Linked DNA regions of Homo sapiens. The protein of the gene in region 1 interacts with the protein of each later gene in a pairwise test. Each region holds a gene or a part of one and is shown in the gene's direction. Other genes may lie near its edges.

Region 1 (2,804 bases):
CGGCTTTCTGGAGCCACCCTTCCCTCCCTCCAAGACAGCCTGCCCTTTGGGAAATTTATGTTGTCTTTGCAGCTGGCACCGTGCTGTCTGGCACGTATATCAGTGCTGTTCCATTGATCTGTCCAGCTGAGTCCAGAGCAAAAGAGCTAGCTTTGGCGGGCAGTGAAGTGAGAGCAAGGGTGTGCGACCTAGCCAGGCCACTTACCCCAGCCTTCCCTGTCCCTTCACTACCTTGACCTCAGTTTTCTCCTTCAGGACTAAAGGCCAACTTCTTATGCTCTACAGCTCCAACCAGAGGTACCAGCTGACCCATATAATCTGGAAACAAGTTTGAATTCATTGCTGTTAGAAAGAATTGCAGTAATACTGAGTGAATCAAACAAGGCACATGTGCTCTCGTTTGCATTGCATATACATTGATTATCCCAGAAAGAAAACAAAAGAAACTGGTGATGGTGGTTACCTATTGCCTATTCAAAAATAACGGTTTAAAAAACACCCCAAAACTAATAGGGATGGATCGTGAGTGGTTACGGAAAAAGTAAAATAATGTTTTGCCCCTAGTTTGGATTTGACAGGAAGAACTGGTAATATTGGGCCTGAATCCATCCAGCATGGCCCTAACCAGCCAGGGCCAGTCTGGGCTGCTCCCCTTGGGTTGGGCCTGCACCCCATCCCTGTCACTCAGATGGCTTTTGTGGCCTGTGTCCCAGCTTGGTCTTCAGGTCTTGCCTGGCTGAGATTGTTGGTTTTCATGGTAAAAGCAGGGTCAGACTCCCTGCCGTCACCTGCTGCGTAAGACACAGAAAGTGCTGCCTGCTGACTGACTGTCTCTCCTCAGGGACTGGCTGGCTTCGAGCAGGGCATCGGAACCAGGCCTCCTGGCACTGGCCTGGGTAGAGCCAGGGCGAGCACCAGCTGACCCCCAGTGGAACCCTGTGACAGTCCTGCCAGGGCCCAGGCCATCCCAACCGACTTCCATCTCATGGACCCTCCAGCGGAGAAGCCGGGAGAGGCTGGCGGACTGCAGATCACACCCCAGCTGCTGAAGTCACGCACAGGCGAGTTCTCCCTGGAGTCCATCCTGCTACTGAAGCTGCGTGGCTTGGGACTGGCTGACCTGGGCTGCCTGGGAGAGTGCCTGGGCCTGGAGTGGCTGGACCTATCAGGCAACGCGCTCACCCACCTGGGCCCGCTGGCCTCCTTGCGCCAGCTAGCTGTGCTCAATGTCTCCAACAATCGGCTGACGGGCCTGGAGCCACTGGCCACCTGTGAGAACTTGCAGAGTCTCAATGCCGCAGGCAACCTACTGGCCACCCCGGGCCAGCTGCAGTGTCTGGCTGGGCTACCGTGCCTGGAGTACCTGCGGCTCCGAGACCCTTTGGCCCGGCTCAGCAACCCGCTCTGTGCCAACCCCTCCTACTGGGCTGCAGTCCGGGAGCTGCTGCCTGGCCTGAAAGTCATCGACGGTGAGCGTGTGATTGGGCGTGGTAGTGAGTTCTACCAGCTGTGCCGAGACCTGGACAGCTCCTTGCGTCCCAGCTCCAGTCCAGGCCCCAGAGCCACCGAGGCCCAGCCCTGGGTGGAGCCAGGCTACTGGGAGTCCTGGCCCAGCCGGAGCAGCTCCATCCTGGAGGAGGCCTGCCGGCAGTTCCAGGACACACTGCAGGAGTGCTGGGACCTGGACCGCCAGGCCAGCGACAGCCTGGCCCAGGCGGAGCAGGTACTCAGCTCTGCGGGCCCCACCTCTTCCTTCGTCTTCTGAACGTGGCCTATGGCCCAGGACAGCCTGGCAGGTGGCCTCGCTGCCCCCAGTTCCCCTCTCTGCCCCCACACTCGTCTTAGTTGCTTCACACTGGTCACTGGCCCTGCACACTGGGCTATTGCTTTATCCCTATCCTGAGAGCAGCCCCTCCCCACCATCCCTCCACATGCTGCAAGGACAGACTGAAGGGCTGTGAGCAGGTGTAAGGGCTCCCACATCCGTGAGCCTGTGTCCGCAGCTGCTGCCACTCTGGGCTGCTCCAGCCTGCAACTTAGTGGAAGGAATTACTTCCTCCTGAGGCTACAGGCGAGAAAGGTAGGGATGGGCCAGCCTCCCGTCTCAGCTGTTGGGAGACAGTAGGCAGGCTGAGTGGCCCAGAGCACTCCTGGAAGTGGGACTCCCCTGCCTTGCAAATGTGCCTCTCCAGACTGCTCCTGCACTTACCCCCTCCCCGCAGCACCTTCTCTGCCCGTTCTTGTCCACACATCTATTAAATGCTTCTGTTTTCATTTGCATCCCTGCCTGGCATTTCATGGGGGCACCTCTGGCTCTGGAGCACAGGAGGCTCTGCTCACCCTGCCCACAGGAAGGGGTCCCAGAGGAAGGGTCCTGTCCCCCTGCCCTCTCTGGCCGCCTCTGAGCTACGCTAAGGAGGAAGTCGTGCAACACAAGGAGCTGAGAGGCAGCTGGGAGAGCAGCTTTATTATCATGGCTGGGGATAGAACGGGTTCCTCTCCCTGGGGGCTGGGGTCTTCCACTGGTTACCACCCGCAGCGGTCCTGGAGGCACCACGCATCTCTAGACAAAAGGGGAAACAGGTTTGGGGGTGAGGGAGGTTGCTTCAGCCCCAGTCCCAGCTTTCCTCCCAGGCTTCTGACCTGTCCCCTCCCAGGCTCCCAAAGCCCAGCCCAGCCCCTCAGCATTCCCAGGGCTGGCCTCATCCAGACGGTGCTCTCAGCCCCCTGGTGCCTACCAGTGCTGGCTTAGCTGCGGGGCAGGGCCTTGGAGAAGGCGAACTGTCCAGGGAAGTAGAAGCTGT
Region 2 (3,653 bases), on another chromosome or scaffold:
CTTGGGAGGCTGAGGCAAGAGAATTGCTTGAACCTGGGAGGCGGAGGTTGCAGTGAGCCAAGATCACACCAGTGCACTCCAGCCTGGGCAACACAAAGGGAGACTCTGTCTCAAAAAAAAAAAAAAAAAAAAAAAAAGGAAAGAAAAAGAAAGCGTGCAAACATTTGTGAGCCTGTGTTCTGTGCATATCCACATATGTATTTGAAAGTTAGTGCACACTCAAGTCAGCCCTCGGAGCCTGCGTCCCCTCATGGATACACCATGAGTGTGTGAATGTACAAACTGCCTGCACCTTGGACATTCTCTAGGGACAGGGAGCAAGGACTGTCCCTGGGTTTCATCTAGAGGAACAGGAGGTCCCTTAGATGCCCTGGAGTTGGCCCCGCGCGAGGGGTGCTGGGAGTTGACAGGAAAGAGGAAGTGGCAGCCGAGAGGCCCTGGTGGGGCTGAGGTTCAGGAAGAGGGCGGGGCCCTCAGCCCGGACCCAGGATGGCGGAGGCCAATAACCCCTCGGAGCAGGAGCTGGAGGTGGGGTCCAGGGTCCCTGTGGGGGCAGGCAGAAGGGGGCCCCAAGTGGCACAGGCCAGTAGTCCTTCCCCGGGTACTTCTCAGTTTGGGAACAAGGAGAGGAGATGGGGCACTGGCCTCAGAGTTCTCTCTCTGGAGGATGAGAGTATCCAGTGCCCTTCGGGGCTCCCAGATTGGGGAGAGACAGAAGGAAGGAGACCGGGCTCTGTTCTTTAGGGTCCCAGTTGTTGAACATAGGAGAAGAGCAGATGAGGGTCTTCAAGACCCCATAGTTTGGGGGTACAGCAGAGAGAAGACTTGGCCTGCCCTTGGGATACCCTAGTTTTGGGGGTGTAGCCAAGGAAAGATGAGGCCTGCCCTCGGGATGCCATAGTTTCAGGGTACAAGTGAGGGAAGATGGGGCCTGTCCTCAGGACCCTGTAGTTTTAGGGGTACAGCAGAGAGAAGACAGGGCCTGCCCTTGGGCCCTCTTAGTTTCGGGGAGCAGCAGAGAAAAGAAGGAATCTTCCCTTGGGACCCTCTAGTTTGGGGGAGGCAGCAGAAGGGAGACAGATCTTATTCTTGAGACCCCCTTAATGTGGGGGACGCTGTGGTGGTGGGGGTGACAAGGCCCTGCTCTTGAGACCTCCCAGTTTGGGGAGGTCAGGAAGCAGTGGCAAGGCCTCGTCACCTTCCAGTTTTGGGAGTCAGAGGAGGTAGAGCAGGCCCTGTCTTGGGAGCCCCAGTCCAGGGCAGAGGCTGGGCCAGGCTGGCTGCATGTGGTCTGCACCTGGAGTTCTCCTAGCTCCACTGACCCTGTTCTGTCCTCCGCAGAGTGAGCCTCGCAGCTGGTCCCTGCTAGAGCAGCTGGGCCTGGCCGGGGCAGACCTGGCGGCCCCCGGGGTACAGCAGCAGCTGGAGCTGGAGCGGGAGCGGCTGCGGCGGGAAATCCGCAAGGAGCTGAAGCTGAAGGAGGGTGCTGAGAACCTGCGGCGGGCCACCACTGACCTGGGCCGCAGCCTGGGCCCCGTAGAGCTGCTGCTGCGGGGCTCCTCGCGCCGCCTCGACCTGCTGCACCAGCAGCTGCAGGAGCTGCACGCCCACGTGGTGCTTCCCGACCCGGCGGCCACCCACGGTGAGCTGGGATGCCTCTGGGGATGCGGGACTCCAGGGATTCCACTGCTCACTGGCTCACCCATGGTCTCCAGAGCCAGGTTAACCCATCTCCACGGACCCCCAGGGAGATGCATGCCATGACCCCCGTAGCCACCAACACCCAGAGAGGTGCATACAGCCACACCAGCACCCGGTAACACTCAAGACCGTGCATGCTGTCACATGAATACCTCTAGACACAGCCACGCCAACACCCAGGCAACATTCAAGGATGTGCATGCAGTCACACAAACACCTAAAAAAACAGCCACACCAACACCCAGGCAACACCCAAGGGTGCACATACTGTCACACGAATACCTCCAGACACAGCCACGCCAACACCCCAGGCAACACTCAAGGATGTGCACACTGTCACACGAATACCCAGAAACTCCCACAGTTACATGGATGATAACCAAAGACTGTTTATTTTTGTTTTTGTTTGGAGACAGGATCTTGCCTTGTCACCCAGGCTGGAGTACAGTGGTGTGATCAAAGCTCACTATAGCCTCAATTTCCTGGGCTCAAACAATCCTCCCACCTCAGCCTTCCAAGTAGCTGGGACTAAAGGCATACACCACCATGCCTGGCTAATTTAATTTTTTTTTTTTTTTTTTTTTTTGTAGAGAAAGGGTCTTGGTATGCCGCCAGGGCTTGGCTAGAACTCCTGGCTTCAAGTGATCCTCCTGCTTTGGCCTCCCAAATGCTGGGAATACAGGCGTGAGCCATTGCACCCAGCCTGTTTTTTAATTTAAAACATTTTTATTGGTTTTAACATTTTTTTTCTTTTTGAGATGGAGTCTTGCTCCATCACCCAGGCTGGAGAGCAGTGGTGCAATCTCAGCTCACTGCAACCTCCACCTCCCAGGTTCAAGTGATTCTCCTGCCTCAGCCTCCTGAGTAGCTGGGACTATAGGCTTGCACCACCACGCCCGGCTAATGTTTGTATTTTTAGTAGAGATGGGATTTCACCATGTTGGCCAGGCTGGTCTCAAACTCCTGACCTCAACTGATCCACCCACCTCAGGTGATGTGCCTCCCAGAATGCTGGGATTACAGGTGTGAGCCACCTCACTCAGCAGCTTGAATTTTTTTTGGTGGGGAAGGACAGAGTTTTGCTCTTGTCACCCAGGCTGAAGTGCAATAGCACGATCTCGGCTCACTGCAACCTCCACCTCCCAGGTTCAAGTGATTTTCCTGCTCCAGCCTCCCAAGTAGCTGGGATTATAGGCATGAGCCACCACGCCTGGCTAATTTTTGCATTTTTAGTAGAGACGGGATTTTGCCATGTTGGCCAGGGTGGTATTTAACTCCTGACTTCAAGCAATCCGCCTGCCTCGGCCTCCCAAAGTGCTGGGATTATAGGTGTGAGCCACTGCGCCCGGCCTCAGTCATTTCTGCACCCAGGGTCCCCTCAAGCATCACACCACTCTCCAGAGACTCATGCAGACACATGCATCCGGATGTGCCAACACCCGGAGACTCAGTCATACCAACCTGGAGATCTGAACTCACAGTTGTAGCAACAGTCAGAGATGTACGCAGAGCATCTCCCAACACCCACAATCTCAGACAGTCATTCTAACACATGGCGTCTCACAGAGTTACACTAACACCTAGGGAAACACACACTCAGCCATGCCAACACCCTGCAGCTCACAGATGGCACCACTCCCACACCCATAGGCTCACACAAGCCATGTACGTAGTTACTCATGGGCCTCTCAAATGCAGTGGACCCAGCACCAAGGACACACTAACACACCTGGGTGCTCGCCTGCACTCATTCATCCTGGGTTCTGCCCCAGCCCCGAGGGGTTTCCCTGGGAGGGTGGGTGGGTAGACTGCTGGGCCCTGGTGTCCCCCTGCCTGCCTGTCTGCTGGCCCCCAGCTCCCCCTCCTCCATGCCCCAGGGGCAATGCCCAGGCTGGGCTGAGGATGAAGCCTCCCAGGCAGGCCGAGGTGAGGATGCGTGGTGACTCTCTCCC
Region 3 (3,653 bases), on another chromosome or scaffold:
TTTGGGTCTCAGAGTTATCCAGGAGTTTATGAATAGGTTGAGCTTTCTCTGGTTTCACCTGCACATGTAGCAGCCTCTGTTAGGAATGCTTGCCGCAATTACCACTACAAACTTAGGCTGGTAAAATCTTGGCTATCCTCAGCTACGATGACCTCCAAAGTATCACCTCCACAAACAAGTTTGCCTCGTGCTCCAAGTTAAGTGAGTTGTCTCCATCTGTACCAAAGAAGTTCTCATCTTCACAGCCTGCCCCGGCCTCGAAGAAATTCCATTTTGAGGGGGTGGAGAGGAGCATAGGAGGAGCACTGAGCCCAGCCACCAGTTTTTCAGTGCATAAAAGCTTCCCACATTGTATGTGTTTAGATTTCTAAACTGCTGAAATGGTGGGTTTTGTCATTTTTGGCCAGCTTTACTTTTGCTTTTCAGTGGGAAGGTTTTTTGAGCTCCTTAATCTCCCATAGACAGAAATCCTGCCCCTCTTGTTGAATCGTCCCAGATTTGGCTAGTTGGAGCCCCTTCAAACTAGCTTCTGTGTCAGATAATAGTTTTAAAGCCTTCCTTACTGTGCCAGGAATTTATGTGTTCAAATGTGGGTGTGCCGGGAGCAGTGGCTCACACCTATAATCCCAGCTTTTAGGAGGCCAAGGTGGGAGGATTGCTTGAGACCAGTAGTTCAAGACCAGCCTGGTCAGCATAATGAGACACCGGCTCTACAAAAAATTTTTAAAATGTGGTGAGAGGATAGTTTGAGCCCAGGAGTTCTAGGCTGCAGTGAATTATGATCATGCCACTGTAGCCTGGGCAACAGAGTGAGACCCCAGGGCAAAAAAAAAGGTGGGGGGTTCTTTTATTTAATTGCAGTTCCTCTAAGCTTCATTTTTTAAAGTAATTCAGAAAGGGAATTAATTGTAAAAAAAATTTTTTGGTAAACCAGGTAACAGAAACTTTCTTTATTCCCAAAAGCACCATAGTAAACACCGTATGTGTTTCTCAGAAAGACAGAATCCATTGATGTAATGGATGCGGTTGGAAGTAATATTGTGGTTAGCACAAGAACTGGAGAAGTGATGAGGATTTTGCCACGTATGCATGAGGACATCAATGAAGAGTGGATCTCTGATAAAACCAGGTATATGCTATATTGTTTTCCTTAACTTTTACAGTTTATTTAAAGGAAATTTTATAATAATTTTGAAGAATTATCTTTTATATTTGCAAATTAGTTACTGAATATAGACTACTGGAATCTGAGTTGCTTATATAATGTGATAATACTGACTTTAATAGTCCTAGGTCAATCCCTGGATATTGTATTTACTTTGAGAAAGATATTTTTTCCTCCCACATGGAGAAATTCAAGTAGATTGATACATTCTCAACTTATTTCAGTTTGTTCATTAGAGAAAAGAAGCTAGGCTGGGCGCAGTGACTCACACCTGTAATCCCAGCACTTTGGAAGGCCGAGGTGGGATGATTGCTTGAAAAAGAAGCTGAATAGAAGAGTTTGCACAATATAATTTTGATAAAATATTTAGAGATACTCATGCTTTGTAAATAAAAATGATTTGACTTTTTTAGCTGTCAGATTTTTTTGTGTTGTAATTTTAAGATTGTTCAGTTAGCTGAAAGTATAAGAAATCAAACTTTTTTTTGTATGATTTAAGGGAAGAAATCAAACTTTCAGATGGTATTTTAGTTTTAGGTGAAGTTCATAAAATCTATTAGTTCATCTCTAAAAATATCTGGAATAATTACTTGTATCTAGGTGTTTAGATATTTGACACTTTAACCAGTACTGTATTTAAATAACATTTCTTGTTGATTTAACTTGAAAATTATAGTTACTTCTTTAGCAAGATTCCACAATGGTGTAATTTCTGTTTTCTAGATTTGCCTATGATGGGCTAAAACGTCAAAGACTTACCGAGCCAATGGTCAGAAATGAAAAAGGGCTTTTAACCTATACTTCTTGGGAGGATGCGCTCTCTCGCGTAGCTGGAATGGTAAAATTTGAAATAAATAGTGTTAAATAGTGTTTGTGATTATCAAGAAACATCTTTGCCATGAAGGGGGGGATGTATATTTCTTCCCTTTTTTACTTTTACCAAGATTATGATTTAATCTCCTTCCATTTTACAGACATCTACTGAGGACATATGCTAGATATTATGCTATTAAGGGATATAAAGACCAGAGACACATCATTCCTGCATCCTACAATCTTGTAGTAGAGAAAGTTGCACAATTCAGCAATTATTATATGCAGCTATGAGTAATTATATAAGGAGTAATATGAGTGAGAGCACGTAGGAGGAATGCCTAACTAGGACAGGCATATCAAGATGCCTTCCTTGGAGGTTGCAGTGAGCCGAGATCGCACCACTGCACTCCAGTCTGGGTGACACAGCGAGACTCCATCTCAAAAAAAAAAAAAGCTGCCTTCCTACAGAAGGTGATTCTTAAAGAAGAATCTGAGAATGAATATAAGCTTGCCAGAGTACAAGTGGAGGGAATAGTTTTCTTGTTAGAGAAAGACAACATAAAGCACTAGAGGGAAAGGCAGATACTTCAGAGGAGGTCGCATTTAAGGTAACTATAGTTCCACTTCATTCTCCAGACCTCATTTTGAAGTGCCTTTGTTCCTAAATATAAAACAGCTTCCTTCTAAGTTGATGTTATTAGCTGTGGCCCCACATAACACCTCTGCAGCTTTTCACTTTTAGATTAATTAATAATTGTTGTACAACTTTTTTTGTGTTTTTGAGATGGAGTTTTGCTGTTGTCGCCCAGGCTGGAGTGCGGTGGCGCGATCTCGATCTCGGGTCACTGCAGCCTCTGCCTCCTTGGTTCAAGCAGTTCTCCTGCCTCATCCTCCCGAGCAGCTGGGGATACAGGCGTATGCCACCATGCCCAGCTGATTTTTGTATTATTAGTAGAGATGGGATTTCACCATGTTGGCTAGGCTGGTCTTAAAGTCCTGACTGCAGGTGATCCGCCCACTTCTGCCTCCCAAAGTACTGGGATTACAGGCATGAGCCAGTGTGCCTGGGCATGTTGTAAAACTTTTAATCAGAAGTCTGTTAACTTTTTTTGTACTTGAAAACAAGTACTGTTTTATTTTCTGAACATTTCATTGTGGTCTTTGCTGCGTGTAGGTTTCTTGGTGATGCCCTTTTCATCTGTTTCTAGTTGCAGAGTTTTCAAGGCAAAGATGTGGCAGCAATTGCAGGTGGCTTGGTGGATGCTGAAGCCCTGGTAGCTCTCAAAGATTTGCTTAATAGAGTGGACTCTGACACCTTATGCACTGAAGAGGTCTTCCCCACTGCAGGAGCTGGGTGAGAAATATGAAGCTAGGATCTAGGCTTTCCTTTCTTTTTTTAGTTACAAGTTATGTATAAAATGTGACAACCTGGATTCTCCAACATATCCCCCAGTTTATTTTCATATATAGACCAAGATCAAACCAGAAGTTGTAGGAAATAGAGGAATCCACTTATCACTAAGTATCTCAGGCACAGTGGCTCACGCCTGTAATCCCAGCACTCTGGGAGGCCAAGGCAGGCAGATCGCCTAAGTGCAGGAGTTTGAGACCAGCCTGGCCAACATGGCGAAACCCCGTCTCTACTAAAAATACAAAAAAATTAGCCAGACGT

The links.
Region 2: the proteins of LRRC61 (region 1) and PKN1 interact in binary tests that used the Homo sapiens proteins (3 or more experiments, as listed by UniProt).
Region 3: the proteins of LRRC61 (region 1) and NDUFS1 interact in binary tests that used the Homo sapiens proteins (3 or more experiments, as listed by UniProt).

What each region holds. Positions count from the first base shown.
Region 1 is NC_000007.14:150,335,877-150,338,680, forward strand, and holds the end of LRRC61 (leucine-rich repeat-containing protein 61), read left to right. Parts: intron 1-841; 5' UTR 842-985; coding exon 986-1,765; 3' UTR 1,766-2,280; downstream 2,281-2,804. Other genes in the region: RARRES2 (retinoic acid receptor responder protein 2 precursor), read right to left, coding at 2,749-2,804.
Region 2 is NC_000019.10:14,439,802-14,443,454, forward strand, and holds part of PKN1 (serine/threonine-protein kinase N1), read left to right. Parts: intron 1-475; exon of another isoform or gene 476-489; coding exon of another isoform or gene 490-528; intron 529-1,341; coding exon 1,342-1,642; intron 1,643-3,653. UniProt on the Homo sapiens protein: PKC-related serine/threonine-protein kinase involved in various processes such as regulation of the intermediate filaments of the actin cytoskeleton, cell migration, tumor cell invasion and transcription regulation.
Region 3 is NC_000002.12:206,142,368-206,146,020, reverse strand, and holds part of NDUFS1 (NADH-ubiquinone oxidoreductase 75 kDa subunit, mitochondrial isoform 1 precursor), read left to right. Parts: intron 1-994; coding exon 995-1,129; intron 1,130-1,888; coding exon 1,889-2,003; intron 2,004-3,189; coding exon 3,190-3,335; intron 3,336-3,653.